Regions from separate parts of the Homo sapiens genome. Here all the other regions are linked to region 3. The links come from fine-mapping of genetic effects on gene expression. A gene starts in region 3. Each other region holds a variant in brackets. All regions are shown on one strand. Distances are from middle to middle.

Evidence for each region. PIP is the estimated chance that this variant, and not a neighbour inherited with it, causes the effect.
Region 1: its variant is the best candidate, but not a certain one, in a credible set for the expression of MET in spinal cord (GTEx, PIP 0.89).
Region 2: its variant is the best candidate, but not a certain one, in a credible set for the expression of MET in unexposed skin (GTEx, PIP 0.80).

Annotation. Positions count from the first base shown.
Region 1 is chr7:116,763,903-116,766,665 of GRCh38, reverse strand. All of the region lies in intron 11 of MET (MET proto-oncogene, receptor tyrosine kinase), which reads right to left. Among named protein-coding and RNA genes, the nearest start is that of COMETT, 77 kb to the right of the region's middle. RefSeq lists a silencer at 2,068-2,556. The variant A/G (reference allele first, on the strand shown) is at 1,333.
Region 2 is chr7:116,842,741-116,845,503 of GRCh38, reverse strand. LOC124901731 (a long non-coding RNA gene) reads right to left here. Exons shown (of 3, transcript XR_007060489.1): 3 at 1-2,763. Among named protein-coding and RNA genes, the nearest start is that of CAPZA2, 18 kb to the left of the region's middle. The variant G/A (reference allele first, on the strand shown) is at 1,447.
Region 3 is chr7:116,670,631-116,673,393 of GRCh38, reverse strand. It overlaps MET (MET proto-oncogene, receptor tyrosine kinase), which reads right to left and starts at 1,198. Exons shown (of 21, transcript NM_000245.4): 1 at 817-1,198. All of the region lies in intron 1 of COMETT (cytosolic oncogenic antisense to MET transcript), which reads left to right. RefSeq lists silencers at 1,031-1,220, 1,281-1,410, 1,541-1,590.

The DNA of each region.
Region 1 (2,763 bases), 93 kb before region 3:
ATAAGAACAGGTTTCGACACTGGGCCAAATAACCTCTGAAAAAAGAACCCTTCACTTTTATCCTGTCTGGACTCAGAACTGAGTTCATGGTGGTTTTGACTGAGATTGAGGGGTAGAGTTGCACATAAATTATTCAAAGGGAGAAGGACAACATCTGGCTGGCTCTGGGCAGCAGGTGGATTAGGATGGTTCAAAACCATGCTTCCTTTTTGATCCTTCCAATGCCCACACACTGATGCTTCACCTCCTCCTGAGCTCTCAGCATTTGTTCCTGTGATGACAGTGTCATAGACCAAGTCCCCGCTCCCTGCCCTGGCTCATCTTCCTGTGCTTCTTTTTCCTGTTTGACCTGACTTCTCCAGATTGAACATTTGAAGCATCTTTATTCTCATATGTTCCTATATGCTGCAGAATAAGATAAACCCCCAAGGCAATGTCAGGCAGTCCTTGTTCCAGCATGAAACAGAATACTTTTCTACTTTTCATAAGATATGCTCATGCATAAAAAGTCAGAAATAAGACACTCAGGGAGAAATACAGAGTTTCTTTAAACAGAATAAATTTTTAGATATTTATAAAAAGTTAAGAGCTATTCCCTCTAAAGAACTGCATAGATATATAAATAGCATATGATAGAAAAGTGTCTCTATAATGGTATTTTAGTATACATTAAATGAGAGTTAATATAAGAAATACTGTAATTTAGTGTATGCAGTGACAGAAGACCAAATTTGGAATCAAGAAGCCTGAGTGTGAGCCCCAGTTCTGCTCTTTGCTTCCTGGGTGACCCAAGACAAATCAGCTAATCTTCCTAAACCTTTGTTTACCTATCTATAAATGGGGATAATCATCACTGACCTCCCAACCTCATGGGTCCACATGAGACTCAAATGAAATAAAATATGCCAAAGTACAGTGTCAACTGTAAAATTCCATACAAACATGAGCTGTTGTTGATAGAGGCATTTGGGGAGTCATGTATACCCACAAAGAGGTACCTACTTTTGATGACCACTGTCTACGACTGCTCTTGGGGGACTTGAAGCCTTGGCCAAAAACTTCCTTCTCCATCCATGGGGCTTAGGATTCATTCTGAGGGGTGACTTATGCTTGACCCCTATTGTGTTCCCTCATCCAAACCTGGCTCGCCCTTTTGCCCATGGTGTAGTCACTGGGCTTACTATGAATTGAGGGACTCTCACAACTAGGGCAGGGAATGATCACAATCTCTTTTCACCCTAGGAACTCTTGCATGCATGGCTGCATGAGGAGCATGAAATCTTCCTGGCAATAAAGAGCATATCTCATTCTAAACACATGATTCTCTCCAGA[A/G]CACTTTCATTGATGAAGTACGTGGTTTTTTTTTTTTTTTTTTTTTTGCTCTGTCTCCCAGGCTGGAGTGCAGTGGTGCCATCTTGGCTCACTGCAACCTCCGCCTTCAGGACTCAGGTCACCTCCGTCCCTCAGCCTCCTGAGTAGCTGGGATTACAGGCACCCACCACCATGCCCAGCTAATTTTTGTATTTTTAGTGGAGATGGGGTTTCACCATTTTGGCCAGGCTGGTCTTGAACTCCTGATCTCAAGTGATTCACCCGCCTTGGCCTCCCAAAGTGCTGGGATTACAGGTATGAGCTACCGTGCCTGGCTGAGAGGTAGAAGTTTTAATGTGATCAACTTAACGTATTGATAAAGAGTTAGATTGCTGACACAACAAATATTCTCTTATGCCTTTGCTTTCCTCTCATACATAAGAAAAATGAAGTATGAAAAAATATTGAACCATGATACTAAAATAATCTCCCTGAATTGCCACTGCTCCCACTAGATTACTATTCTGTCACGTGGCAGGTGCTATACACTTGTTAGAGAAAGAGTTATTCCATATATAGGCAAGAAAATAAAGTGTTTTTTGCCAGTCTCTAGAAGACCCTTTCGCCATGTTGGGAATACCATTGACAGGCCGAGGATGATGCCAAATTATGTTTTTCTTGGTCCAACAATTTTGTAGGATGTTGAATAATGGGTATTTAATTTATGGAAAGAGAAGTTTTCTCTTCCATAAAGACTGTGCTTGGAAGGGTAGATAAAGAACCGTTTATCTCTAATCCCTTCATCATAGATACAGGAACAGAAAAATAGAGTTTCTGTGAGTGTAAAACTATTTGCACATAAACCTTTGTTATCATCAAGAAAAACCAAATGGAATCTTTCAAATGGCAAACACAGTAATTGTTGAAAGCAAAAGGTCACACTAGATTAGTTTTATTAAAAAAAAAGAAGTGATAAAAGCTTATTTCTCCCTTTCTAAAACTAATTAAAGAAGCAGATGAAAGAACTTTGCTTTTGTAAACACACTGTTCATTGAAGCGGGCTTCCATTCAATTTTATGCTGGGCTTGCTTAATTATTGTACAAAACACAATAATGAGGTTAGTAAACTTGTATGAACGTGAACATATGCATAAGTTGGGCTGCAGTTAAATTTTTGTTGAAAAAGTCAGAAAAATTTCAATGGAAACATATTATTACTTAGATGGAGATGACCCATGAAAGCCTATATTACAACCAAATAAAGACTATCCTATTGCTTTATGTTTGTTCATATTTGCATTCAGATCATCTTTCAGGAAAAAAAATTCTAAATGTTTTAACAACATGTTGAAGGATAAATATTTTGCTGTTTCTAGTGACTGGAGCTATGAATAATTCAAGTCTTGAGCATTTTGCCTGTGTTATTATTTGAAGTAGAAACTACTGAAGGGA
Region 2 (2,763 bases), 170 kb before region 3:
GTGTGCAGATTTTTGTGTAGGCATGTTTTCAGCTTCTTTGAGTAAATATCAAGGAGTGTGGTTACTGGATCACATGGTAACAATATGTTTAATTTTATAAGAAACTGGCAAACTGTCTTCCAAAGTGGCTGTACCAATTCGCATTCCTACCAGCAATGAGTAAGAGTTCCTGTAGCTCTACATCCTCACCAGTATTTGATGTTGTCAGTGTTCTGGATTCTCGTTGTTTTAACTTGCATTTCTCATATGATATGGAGCACCTTTTCATATGCTTATTTGTCATCTGTATGTCTTCTTTGGTGATGTGTCTTTTAAGGTCTTTGGTTCTTTATTTTTTAAGAGGTGAGGTCTCACTCTGTCGCCCAGGCTAGAGTGCAAGTGGCACAATCATAGTTCACTGGAGCCTTAAACTCCTGGGCTCAAATGATCCTCCTGCCTAAGCCTCCTGAGTAGCTAGGACTACAGGCATGTGCTACCACATTAGACTAATTTTTTATTTTTTGTAGAGATGGGGTCTCGCTATGTTTCCCAGGCTGACCTCAAACTCCAGGTCTCAAGCAGTCCTCCCTCTTAAAGGCTGGGATCACAGGCATGAGCTACTGCATCTGGCCTTTGGCTCGTTTTTTAATTGTTGCGGTATTTGGGTTCTTATTGCTGAGTTTGAGGCTTATTTTTCAAAATACAAGTCTAATAATTCTTCTGTTTTCTGGAACAATTGTATTAAAGTAACTTGTAAGATGATAAGCCTCCTAAATAAATCCAGTGCTCATGGGAGGGAAGGATGATAGCCCAATGAAATATAAGAAATTATATGACACATTTTAGTCAAGTTTAATTTTCTCTTGGCTCTAGCCATTCCTTTCCTACAGCTAGAGGATTCTTGGGTTTCACTTTTTTTTTTTTTTTTTTAAAGATGGAGTCTGTCTCTGTCACCCAGGCTGGAGTGCGGTGGCACGATCTCGGCTCACTGCAAGCTCCGCCTCCTGGGTTCTCGCCATTCTCCTGCCACAGCCTCGCGAGTAGCTGGGACTACAGGCGCCCGCCACCATGCCCGGTTAATTTTTTTGTAATTTTATTAGAGCCGGGTTTCAAAGTGTTAGCCAGGATGGTCTCGATCTCCTGACCTCATGATGTGCCCACCTCAGCCTCCCAAAGTGCTGGGATTACAGGAGTGAGCCACCTCGCCTGGCTGGGTTTCACTTTTACTTCTCCTGCAGAGGTGGTAATGCGTATGAAAGAAAGCAGAAAAAAAATACTTGCATACTTACATAATTTAAGATGCGTAACGCTTGGAATGTTTCAATTTCCTACTTAAGCAAAATACTAAATTCATTTTTGTTAATTTTAGTGAAAAAATAAGAAAGAGTATATTAAGAAGTCAAGAAACCTGTATTGGTGCCAGATCAAACATTGCAAATCAAGGCAGTGGCTCCACTGAGGTGACGT[G/A]TCTTGCAATTTTGATGTTTAATGGGGACTGATCTGGAAACCGAAATAGTGGTTAGCCTGGAATGGCTCAGGATAATTTATTGTAACTCAAATTTGTATTCAAACTAAGTAGGCAACTCTGGCGGATCTGAGATGGGAACAAAAGACTACGTTTCTCCCCTTAGAAGTCACAGAGAGGTTTACATTTCATAAAAATTATCTTGCATTTTGCTGTGCTTGTTGATACATGTAAAATCCAGTTGTGAGGTAAACAGGGGATTTTGAGAGAGCTGAGATTCTATGTAAACAAAACTTATATGCGTATTTTTGACTGCTAATTCAGAATTGTATTTGTGAGTGTCCAGAGCCTACTGGGAGATGAGAACGGTCTTCTGAGGCTTCCTTTGGCTGGGTTGGAGAAGGCTAGGAGCCTGGGGTGTGGCACACTGACGGAGTAGAGGGGAAAGAAGAGTGAATAGAAACAGGAAAAGGCAGAGCTCTTTTCCCCACCCTCTGTGGCTTACAGAAAAGGGAAACTGGACCCACCAAGTGCAACTGCAGGAGAACCAGCATTTCAGTGGTGAGATAAGCCCTCACACTAGCGCAAGCAGAAGTGCCAGCAGCCTGAAAGGGTTTTAACCCTAGGTTGATCAATGTAAATCTTAGAAAGCCACTTCCAAGCCCTGGGAAAGGTGTCTGTACCCAAATCCAAGAGGCAGGAACAGATGTGGTGGAACATTGGAAGCAAGATGATGAGTAACATGAATTGCTAGTCAAGCATCTGAAAAAAAGAGCCCTCAGTTATATTTTAGAGTTTATTTTTAAGAAGGGTTTGCTCTAAAAGTACTGTAGGAGAAATAAACAGGTAACTAGAGGGGACCCTGAGAGTAGCCACAGAAAGTCTTTTTGAGGAGTGCCAGTTGAGCTGAGGCCTGATGGATGAAATGAGCCAGACAAATGATGGGGATAGGAGGCAGAAAGAGGGAAAGAAATGCAAAGGGAAGAAATGGGTCACATTCTGGATTCCACTCTAACAGATCCAAGTCACTTTCCTGAATAGCTTACTGTATAAGTGGAAAGGTGACTAGTTATAGGAGTGTTACATGTTGGAGAAATGGGTAGGATTCAGTTTACATGGACCAAAACATGCAATAAGATCACTTCGGACCTCATTTTTATCATCATTCAATGATGCTTTCTTATGCCTCATTTTGCTTGACTTCTACCAAACACATTTCTGTCAACATGTAAGACATTTTTTCATATGCTGCCCTGCCTGGTCTTGAACTCCTGGGCTCAAACCATCCTCCTGCCTCAGCCTCCCAAGGTGTTGGGATT
Region 3 (2,763 bases):
CTGCCCGAGGGCTCCTTTGAACATAAAACTGTGATAAGGTAAAATACACTGGGCAACTATTCATGCGTGAGCCATTGGAGCCCTCTCCAACTGCCAAATTAGCAAATGGCTCTTTTAAAACATGAAAGATATGAATGGGAAACCGTACTTCGGAGTAAATTCTGCATTGACAATAGTCAGGGAAAGTACTTTCACTGGTGCTTTAATTATCGGGTCAGCACTACGACTGGCCACATCGCTCAGCCTCTGGTTATAATCTATTTCACCTAATAAGATAGATGTCCACCACAAGCCCCAGAAAGAGATAAGGTACGATGGAAAATTGATGGATCACAAGCCCCGCGTGATTGCCAGAAATGAATTCAGACTTTCACAGAAACACCTGCCCCTTGGAAGGACCCCAACATAACACAGATAAAGCAAGGCTGGGAACAAGGAAACAGCTCGGCTCAAACCTTGCCAGCTGCATCACGGTGGGACGAGGATGACCGGATCCCTTTTGTAAGGGCTGAGTCAGATCCCAGCTTTAAAACTTGCTGGGCCGTAACAGTCACACATCACCCACTGTCCCAGCGCCCCTCTCCCTCCTAAGTCATACAGGTGGCCATCAGAAGCAACCCCCTAAAAAGACAAGCCCCATTCTAGTTTCGTCCTCGCCGTGGCCACGTCTCTTCAGTTTCCGAAGCCCCTAAACTCTAGCCCACCTACGTGGTTTTGCCCCCTGGAACAGCAGTCAGGTCTCTTAGGGGAACAAAGAAAGCAGAACCCCTGAGGCGAGGGATTGGGTACTGGATCTGAAAGGGGCTGCAATTTTACCTTTCGGTGCCCAGGAACCAGTGGAGAAGTCAGCGGCGCAAGGACCACACGCGCGCTCCGCGCCTCCCCGCCTCCTCTCAGCAAGTCAGCTGTCGCCCCGCATCTGGCTCGCGCCCTCCACTCGGCTCCGCATCTGCTCACAAAGCGCTCGGGGCGCCGCGGGCGGCGAGGGCCTCCGGGTCACCTGCGGCCGGGCTGAGCCCAGCGCCCCGCCCGCCCGCCGGCCGCACTCCCTCCGCCCCTTCCCACACGCGCGCTGCCCTGCCAGTGACTCAGCCGGGCATCGGCGCGCGCGGCCCGCGGCGGCCCGGGCGCGTTGGGGCCGGAGGCACCGCCAGGCGACCAGACTGAGGCGCTCGCCTGCCCGCCCCAGCACGTGTCTGTCTGCCTCGCGTGCTGTCCGTCCCCTAGTCCGCGGGTTCCGAGGACCGCTGAGGTGGGGACTGGCACCACCCAGAGGGAAATCGGCCCCCGCCCTTCCTGCCGTCCGCGCCGCGCCTGGCCCCGCGGGGGTCGCGTTTCCTCCCGCCTCTGCCCCGCCCACGACAAGGTGAAACTTTCTAGGTGGAGAAGTTTTCTCGCCCTGGCTGCGCGCTCTCCTCCCCCAGCTCAGGCAGTCTGAAGTTAGCACAGCCGGAGATAAGCGGGACCGAGTCTCCCCCTCCTGGCGCTTGGGAGGCGAGTGTCACCCCGGGCTCAGATGCAGGGCGCGCACCCTCCTGGCACCCCGCTCGCTGACCCCGGGAAGGGCGCGAGCTTTGCTCTCGGCCTCTCCCACGTCTCCGCTAACCGCCCCGCGCCCACCCGGGTTTAGAGAGATTTGGGCACCGCAGAAACAAGGAGTTCATTGTTAGAGGCGGAGGTAGAAGTGGATGGACGAATTGTCCCAATGATTTCATTATGCAACGATTATCCTCTACTATAATAACTCAAATTTCTGCAAGGAAGAACAACAGAGGAGTTTAACCCTGAGGAGACTTCCATTTCTTTTTTTCTTTTTTTTTTTTTCCATAGCCGGAAGCAGGCTGATTAAATAACTGGGCAAATAGCGATGAATAAGCACAACAGAACAAAAGTTTAATTCTTGAATGTTGAAATCTTATGATGATTTTTAAAAAAGAGCTTTTGGGGCCTCGGTGAACTCTATTAGGAGTAATTGTGTTGGGATAACTTTGTATTTCGCTATAAAAATTGGCACCTACAAGAGTAAATGAACACTCAAAGGTAATAGGATCTAAGGAACGGGCATTGCCGGTTAGAACTTGAGTTCGTTCCGGCTCTCATACCAACTTGTTCAATCATGGCAATAGATAATGAGACATAGATATCTTCGTTATTGAAAGTCATGGGTTAAAATAACAGTTACTATGCAGGTTCAGTTCTTATTTACTACAGAATGAAACATAGAAAAATGTAGTAAGAATAGTTATCATTTCCCAAGTGCCAGGCACTTGGAAATGATAATGTAACCAGAGGTTACATAAGAGTGATTTCAGTCCTCAAAAGAGATTACCTCTTGATTCCCCAGTTTTATGGAAAAGGAAAGTTCCCATTACGTTACTAAAGTCTTGCATTGAACCATTTTGCAGGTAAAGAAACTGAGTCCCTAAAAGTTCCCAGGAGAGTCACATAGCTGGTTAGTAAGAGGGGCAAAGTTAGAACTTAGCTTTCAGCCCAGTCAGGTGTCCTTCACACCATACCAAGAGGCCTCAGCAGGCTAAATAAACAACGCGGCCTGACTGGAGATTTCCTGATACGGCATGGCATAATTTATCAATGACTATAGCTCATTAAAAAACACTAATTTACTGGTAATAAGGCACTGGGCCTATTTATGGACAGATCAATTACAGATTTTGGGTTCAGTAACAGCTTTCAATAAAAGATGAATAAATTAATGAATTTAAAAAGTTTTACACACACACACACACACACACACACACACAC